Regions from separate parts of the Homo sapiens genome. Here regions 1 and 2 are each linked to region 3. A link means that fine-mapping ties the variant in region 3 to the expression of a gene that starts in the linked region. Tissue or cell type: whole blood. Region 3 holds a variant in brackets; each other region holds the start of a gene. All regions are shown on one strand. Distances are from middle to middle.

Region 1 (2,680 bases), 54 kb before region 3:
AGGCGGGTGGATCATCTGAGGGTGGGAGTTCAAGACCAGCCTGACCAACATGGAGAAACCCCACCTCTACTAAAAATACAAAATTAGCTGGGCATGGTGGCACATGCCTGTAATCCCAGCTACTCGGGAGGCTGAGGCAGGAGAATTGCTTGAACCCGGGAGGCGGAGGTTGCCGTGACCCCAGATCTCGCCGTTGCACTCCAGCCTGGGCAACAAGAGTGAAACTCTGTCTCAAAAAAAAGGTAGAAAAATTAGCCAGGGATGGTGGCTCAGGCCTGTGATCCCACCTACTTGGGAGGCTGAGATGGGAGGATCGCTTGAGCCCGGGAGGTCGAGGCTGCAGCAAGCGGTGATCACGCCACTGCACTCCAGCCTGGGCAACTGAAAGCAACCTTGTCTCAAAAAAATGAAAAAAAAAAAACAAAAAACAAAAAAACCTCAGAAGCAAGACTTTCCTTGGCTCAGAGGTTTGCCTCCCAGGGACACAAAGGGAGATCAAGTGATTGCCTTTTGGGGAGAGTGGAGACGGGCTTCCTGCATTTCCAGTGCCTGGGTGGGCCACGTAGGGGTGTCCGTGTCTCTGAACGCATCCGTGCCCACCCTCACCCCTTGGGTTTTGGGAAGGACTAATGAAATCATGAAAACTGACTTCCTTGGGGCTTGACCTGGGGCTGCTCTAAGTGCGCTACAGGTAACGCCATTAACCCGTGCAAGACCCAATGAACAGACGCTATCATAAGCCCCACTTTTCAGGCGAGCAAACAGGGGCTCGTGGCTATCGATGCCATGGAGCCTTGGCCCAGAACCTGGGGTCTAGAAATCGTGGCCTCTCTCTCCTCTCACCGCCCTCTTTCTGGTCGGAGTGAACCCCCCAGAGAAGGGAGGGAGACGGCAGGGCCTGACGGAAGCCCCGGGAGCTGCACAGAGAGGCGGAGGGAGCTGCCCTAATAAGGAGAGGCCCGGACTTGGGCATATCTGCAGAAAAACCCTTCCCCACTAGGCAGGCGCGGGGGAGGGCGTGGAGGGGCGGGGTGGTGCCGCCCCCGGGGCGGGCCCAGTGCGTGGCAGCGGGACCTGCGGCCCCGTCGCGAAGTTTCCAGCCCTGCGAGCGCCGCCGGGTCGGCCGATCGTCCCCCATACCTCGGCCATGCGGCCCCTGCTGCTACTGGCCCTGCTGGGCTGGCTGCTGCTGGCCGAAGCGAAGGGCGACGCCAAGCCGGAGGGTGAGGGAGCGAAGGCCGGGGGCGGGAGCGCGGATCCGGGCGGGAGGGCTGGTGTCGGGCTGCCTCCCTGGGAACGACCTGAATGGGAGGCCTGGGCTGGAGAGGGAGTCTGGGTTCCGGCTCCTTGTCCACTTAATCGCTGGTGACTTGAACAAATCACTTCCCCTCTTGGGGCTGCGGTTCCTGCTTCGGGAAGGAAAGGGTGACAGCTGAGTCCCATTCAGCACAGAAAGGCTCAAATAATAATAGTTTTCATAATAATAACCGACAATGGCTATTCTGCCCAGTGCTCACTATGGGCCAGGCATCAGTTAGGCATGATTGCTACCCTGGTAAGTGTTTCCTTCTATTATCCCCGTTTTCCAGCTGGGCAAACTGAGGCTCCAGAGTTCATTCACTTGCCCAAGATCATACAACTTGTGGGCCTTGGAACCAGGATTTACCCCACCCACCCAGGTGTCTGGTTCCAGAGCCAGGAGGCCTCATGACCATGGGAATGAGGGGTCTTGAGGGGGACAGGGGAGGAATGGGGGTAGAAGGTGTGGCTCACTTTGTGGATAAGTTTGTGCTTTCATCCATGTCCCCTGTGGTCTGCTTAGCCCCTGCCAGGGTGGTCTTCCTCTCTGCAGTTTATTTTTTTTATTTTACTTAATGTATTATTTATTTAGTTATTTATTTATTTTTGAGACAGAGTCTTGCTCTGTCGCCCAGGCTGGAACGCAGTATGCGATCTCGGCTTACTGCAACCTCTGCCTCCCAGGTAAAAGCAATTCTTTTTTTTTTTTTTGAGATGGAGTCTCGCTCTGTCGCCCAGGCTGGAATGCAGTGGCACAATCTCAGCTCACTGCAACCTCCACCTCCCAGGTTCAAGTGTTTCTCCTGCCTCGGCCTCCCAAGTAGCTGGGATTACAGGCACGTGCCACCATGCCTAGCTAATTTTTGTATTTTTAGTTGAGATGGGGTTTCACCATGCTGGCCAGGCTGGTCTTGAACTTCTGACCTCTTGATCCGCTGGCCTCAGCCTCCCAAAATGTTTGGATTACAGGCGTGAGCCATCGCGCCCGGCCGGTTCAAGCGACTCCTGTACCTCAGCCTCCCAGGTAGGTGGGATCACAGACATGTGCCACCATGCCCAGCTAATTTTTGTATTTTTGGTGGAGATGGGGTTTCACCATGTTGGCCAGGCTGGTCTTGAACTCTTGACCTCAGGTGATCAGCCCACCTTGGTCTCCCAAAGTGTTGGGATTACAGGCGTGAGCCACCACACCTGGCCCTCTCTGCAGTTTATACTTGAGGAAACTGAGGCCCAGACAGGTGAAGTGACTGTCCAGGGTGGTCCAGACAGAGGTGGTTGGTCCGAGGTCAGCTGGGCTCCAGTCTAGCGCTCTTTCTACTTCCTCAAGGCAGATTGGATTGCAGTGTGTGCCCCACTGTCCTGAGTGGGTGCTTCCCTCCTC
Region 2 (2,680 bases), 62 kb before region 3:
TCAATTGTCCACTACAGTCTCATAAAAACCTTCTGAGGTAGGCGTTATTGTTATTAAATACAGGCCCAGAGAGATTAGGCGACGAATCCAAAGGTCGCACAGACACTAAGCAGTTGAGCAGATTCAACCACTGGTGAAACGCCAAGCCCAAGTTTCAACCACCCCACCATCACCTTCAGTGTCACCTCTGCAGACTTGGGAGGGACATATCTAGGGTGGACCAAGCGCTGGCCAGGACTCACCTGGGCTGAAGAGCTGAGCCCAGAGGAGCTGGTGGTCTTGAAGCAGCTCCGCCGCTGGCATGTCCAAGAGCTCCAGCATTTCCTTCCGTGCCAAGTCCTGCAGCGCCTTGAGCTCCTTGGCTGCTTTGCTTTTGAGCACCTGGGGGTTAATGGGGCCAGAGACGTGCACCACCCACAGCACCGTCTCATCCAGCTGCGTCTTGGGAGCCACTTGGAGGCGGTTCACCAGCTTCTTGGCGGCCACCACCACCAGGTGCACCAACCCAGTGGGCGTAGGCGGGGACCGGCCTGAGTAGAGGAGGAACTGATGGTCTCCGACCTTCTCCAGGGTACTGGTGAAGGCCTTGGGGGCTGGGCCGGCAGTGGGCCCCACAGTCTGCAGCGCGGCCACGCGCTCCGTGGGGTTGTTGAGCTGGATGCGCTGCAGGTAGACGTGGGGTCGGCCCCTGTGCGCCAGAAAGTCCTCTTGCAGCAGCACGCAGTCGCGGCCGGACCCCGCGGCAAGGCCAGAGACGGAGGCGGGCCCGGGGCCGGCGGCCACGGGGCCAGGACCTGGGGACCCCAGCTGCAGGCAACGCACGCGGCGCAGAAGCCCCTCCCGCAGCAGCAGCACCGCCTCTCCAGCTTCAGCCAGCGCGCTCAGCGGGCGCAGCTGCACGAAGGGCACAAAGTCCGGCGCCACGGCGGGCTCCCGCTCCCCGGGAGTCACCCACAGCCGATTGGCAGCCACGTCCAGGGCCAGGAAGCCGTTGGCCACCAGGGCCGGCACTCCAGGACCCAGCGGTACCACCTCACCGCGCTCCCGCAGGCCGCGCCAGGCGCGGGTGGCCGCCTCCAGGCAGGCAGACGGCTCGGCGGCGCCCGGCTCACCGCGGGACCAGGGCAGCAGGTGCAGGCCGCCCGCCGCCCGCCGCGCGCCGGACCCCCCAAACCACAGAAGCAGCAGCAGGAGGCCAAGCAGGCAGAGGAGGCGGCGGGCCCAGCTGCTCGACAGCAGTCCCGGCAGCCCCTTGAGCCGCTGCTGCAGCCACATCGGGCCGCCAGGCGCGGGCAAGGGTGCGAGGGCGGCCGCCGGGCCCGCCGCCCAGCCCACCGGCCCGGCCGCCCGCGCCTCACTGCCCGGCCCGGACCGCGGCGCCCACCCCGGCCCCCGCCGCAACCGCCGCAGCAGCCGCCACCCCTGCTTCCTCCTTCTTCTCGGTGGCCTCCAGCCGTCAAACGACGCCGGCGGTCAAGCGTCGCCGTGTCTTTTACGACAGATGGAAAACGGGAGGGCGGAGGGAGGAGAGAGAGCAGGCCGGAGAGAAGGGGGCGGAGCCACGGCGAGGGCGGGACAAAAGCTGCCGGGGGCGGGACCACTCGTTCCCAGGCCGGAAGAGTGAAGTCCAGTGGAGTTAAGTGCAGGGGTCTGGGGAGGACTGGAAGCATCCAATTCACTCGTGAAAAAAACATCGAGCCAGCCAAACCGAACACGTGTTGGGCCCCTTTGCTACTGATGGATTCAACAGCCCCAAAATTTAAAAACATACACACACACACACACAACAACTTTGTTTCTGTAAAAATGACCATCCTCTCGCCGCGCGCGGTGGCTCACGCCTGTAATCCCAGCACTTTGGGAGGCCAAGGCGGGCGGATCACGAGGTCAGCAGTTTGAGACCAGCCTGACCAACATGGTGAAACCCCATCTCTACTAAAAATACAAAAACTAGCCGGGCGTGGTGGCGCATGCCTGTAATCCCTGCTCCTCAGGAGGCTGAGGTAGGAGAACTGCTTGAACCCGTGAGGCGGAGGTTGCAGGCTTGCAGTGAGCCGAGATCACGCCACTGCACTCCAGCCTGGGCGACAGAGTGAGACTCTGTCTCAAAAAAAAAAAAAAAAAAAAAGACTATCCTCACTGCAAAAAAACACTTGGAACAATACGAAAAAGTGGAGGAAAAAAAAAGGAGAGAGAAGAAGAGGAAGAAAGAAGAAGAAAGGAAAAGGGAGGAGGAGGGGAAGGGGAACCACCAGAGGCCAGGAGTGGTGGCTCACGTCTGTAATTCCAGCACTTTAGGAGGCTGAGATGGGCAAATCACTTGAGGTCAGGAGTTCGAAACCAGCCTGACCAACATGGTGAAAACCTGTCTCTACTAAAAATACAAAAATTAGGCTGGGCACGGTGGCTCACGCCTGTAATCCCAGCATTTTGGGAGGCCGAGGCCGCCAGATCACGAGATCAGGAGATCGAGACCATCCTGGCTAACACGGTGAAACCCTGTCTCTACTAAAAATATAAAAAATTAGCCAGGCGTGGTGGCAGGCGCCTGTAGTCCCAGCTACTCGGGAGGCTGAGGCAGGAGAATGGCGTGAACCCGGGAGGCGGTGCTTGCAGTGAGCCAAGATCGCGCCACTGCACTCCAGCCTGGGTGACAGAGGGAGACTCTGTCTCAAAAAAA
Region 3 (2,680 bases):
ATAATAAACAAAATGTTGGGCCGGGCGTGGTGGCTCATGCCTGTAATCCCAGCACTTTCGGAGGACAAGGTGGGTGGATCATTTGAGGTCAGGAGTTCAAGACCTACCTGGCCAACATGGTGAAACCCCACCTCTACTGAAAATACAAAAATTAGCCGGGCATGGTGGCGAGTGCCTGTAGTCCCAGTTGCTTGGGAGGCTGAGGCAGGAGAATAGCTTGAACTCGGGAGGTGGTGGTTGCAGTGAGCCGAGATCATGCCACAGCACTCCAGCCTGAGCGATAGAGCAAGACTCTGTCTCAGAAAAAAAAAAAAAAAATGTTGGCTGGGCATGGTGGCTCACGCCTTTAATCCCAGCACTTTAATCCCAACACTTTGGGAATCCAAAGTGAGAGGATCATTGGAGCCCAAGAGTTTGGGAGCAGCCTGGGCAACATAAGAAGACCCTGTCTCTACAAAAAATTTTAAAAAAATTAGTGGGGCGTGGTGGTGCATGCCTGTGGTCTCATGTACTCAGGAGGCTGAGGTGGGAGGATTGCTTGGACCCAAGAGGTTGAGGCTGCAGTGAGCTGTGATTGCGCCACTGCACTCCAGCCCAGGTAACAGCGAGATCTTGTCTCAAAATAAAAAATAAATAAGTAAATAAAATGTTAACATTGCTTATCACAAAATGATGGGGTTATGGGTTTTTTTCCCCTTCAGTTTCCAAATTTTCTGTAGCACACCTGTGCTATACTAAAATAGACCAATAGTTTTTGTGTGTGTGTGTGTGTGTGTGTGTTTTTCTTTGTTGAGACTTGGTCTGGCTCTGTCACCCAGGCTGGAGTACAGTGGTGCGATCTCGGCTCACTGCAACCTCCGCCTCCCAGGTTCAAGCAATTCTCTGCCTCAGCCTCCCAAGTAGCTGGGATTATAGGCGGCCACCACCACACCCGGCTATATTTTTTTGTATTTTTAGTAGAGACGGGGTTTCATCATGTTGGCCAGGCTGGTCTTGAACTCCTGACCTTGTGATCCACTTGCCTCAGCCTCCCAGAGTGCTGGGATTACAGGCATAACCCACCATGCCTGGCTGTTTTTTTTTTTTTTTTTAAATAGAGACGGGGTCCTACATTGCCTAGGCTTGTCTCGAACTCCAAAGTTCAAGTGATCTGCCTGCCTTGGCCTCTCAAAGTGCTGGGATTATAGGTATGAGCCACTGAACCTGGC[C/T]CCTAACCAATAGTGTTTTTATGTGGTCTTGCTCTGTCTCCCAGGCTAGAGTGCAGTGGACTGATCATAGGTCACTGCAGCCGAAACTCCTGGGCTCAAGTGACCCTCCCACCTCAGACTCCCAAGTAGCTAGGACTGCAGATGCATGCCACTGTGTCATGCTAATTTTGTTTTATTTTTTGAGACAAAATCTCGCCCTGTCACCCAGGCTGGAGTACAATGGCATGATCTTGGTTCATTGCAGCCTCCATCTCCCAGGTTCAAGTGATTCTCCTGTCTCAGCCTCCCAAGTAGCTGGGATTACAGGTGTGTGCCATTGGGTCTGGCTAATTACTGTATTTTTAGTAGAGACGGGGGTTTCACCATGTTGGCCAGGCTGGTCTTGAACTCCTGACCTCAGGTGATCCACCTGCCTCAACCTCCCAAAGTTCTGAGATTACAGGGGTGAGCCACCGCGCCCAGCCTGAGACACTGTTCTTATCTCACCGTCCTTTGTTCTAGTCCTGGAGGTTGCAGTGACCTGAGATCCCCATATTCTTGATTCTCCCCAAAGCATTCCGCCATCTCCCTAGCAGGATGTCCCGAGGTAGGTGTTGCTGGGTTCGCTCACGTTAGCTTCTCTTGCAGCGCAATGTCCCTGCTCTTCTCTCGATGCAACTCTATCGTCACAGTCAAGAAAAATAAGAGACACATGGCTGAGGTGAATGCATCCCCACTTAAGCACTTTGTCACTGCCAAGAAGAAGATCAATGGCATTTTTGAGCAGCTGGGGGCCTACATCCAGGAGAGCGCCACCTTCCTTGAAGGTAAGGGGGCACCGGCTCAGCCAGGCCCGCTCTTACCTGTTTAGATATTTAGCTAGTGGGATTTGCGGGTGGGGAGGTATATCTCTGCTCCCAGGGAAGTCATAACCAGATAGCCTTAGAAATGCTCTGCTCTTGAAATCATGTGGAATTGGAGTCTGGGGAGATGAGGCCAGGAAGACAAGGGAACTGCCATTTAGTAATTACTTTAAGAAGTCCACATGTTTTGTTTCATTTAATCATGAAAGATAGGTGAATCTTATCCCCATCTACAAGGCAAGCAAATTGAGGTTTGAGAGTTGTCCGATACCTTGTAAGTAATAGATCAGGGTTTTACCCAGGTGTCTCCAACTCCGGAGCCCACGTGTTTTCCTTTGCCTAGTTCTGGCTGCCATTAATACCAGGCACTGTTTGGGTGTCAGTGATCCCTGACCAGGGCGCCCTTTCTTTGATATTTTTAGATTGGTGACAGAACTATAGGAAACTCACGTCACCTATGCCTTTTCTACTAGTTACTAATTTGAGCCCAACCTCTAGTTCCTTGTCTATCAGCAGAGAAGGACTGGTTCCCAGGGCCCCGCTCGTCTGAGTGTCAACTCCAGCACTGGCTTCCTCAGGCTCCCTCTTTAGAAGGACACTTTGGCGCCAGGTCCTGAGATTGTCTGTGGA

The links. PIP is the estimated chance that this variant, and not a neighbour inherited with it, causes the effect.
Region 1: PLOD1 starts here. The variant in region 3 is fine-mapped to the expression of PLOD1 in whole blood (INTERVAL, PIP above 0.99). The same link has a PIP of 0.9 or more in neutrophils.
Region 2: KIAA2013 starts here. The variant in region 3 is fine-mapped to the expression of KIAA2013 in whole blood (INTERVAL, PIP above 0.99).

The regions. Positions count from the first base shown.
Region 1 is chr1:11,933,633-11,936,312 of GRCh38, forward strand. It overlaps PLOD1 (procollagen-lysine,2-oxoglutarate 5-dioxygenase 1), which reads left to right and starts at 1,085. Exons shown (of 19, transcript NM_000302.4): 1 at 1,085-1,223. The coding sequence starts at 1,148. RefSeq lists enhancers at 1-793, 624-673, 794-1,717 and a silencer at 894-1,363.
Region 2 is chr1:11,924,963-11,927,642 of GRCh38, forward strand. KIAA2013 reads right to left here and starts at 1,465. Exons shown (of 3, transcript NM_138346.3): 1 at 243-1,465. The coding sequence starts at 1,275. RefSeq lists enhancers at 409-1,071, 1,072-1,735, 1,390-1,684 and a silencer at 1,320-1,389.
Region 3 is chr1:11,987,330-11,990,009 of GRCh38, forward strand. MFN2 (mitofusin 2) reads left to right here. Exons shown (of 19, transcript NM_014874.4): 3 at 1,836-2,014. The coding sequence starts at 1,840. Among named protein-coding and RNA genes, the nearest start is that of MFN2, 8.2 kb to the left of the region's middle. The variant C/T (reference allele first, on the strand shown) is at 1,209.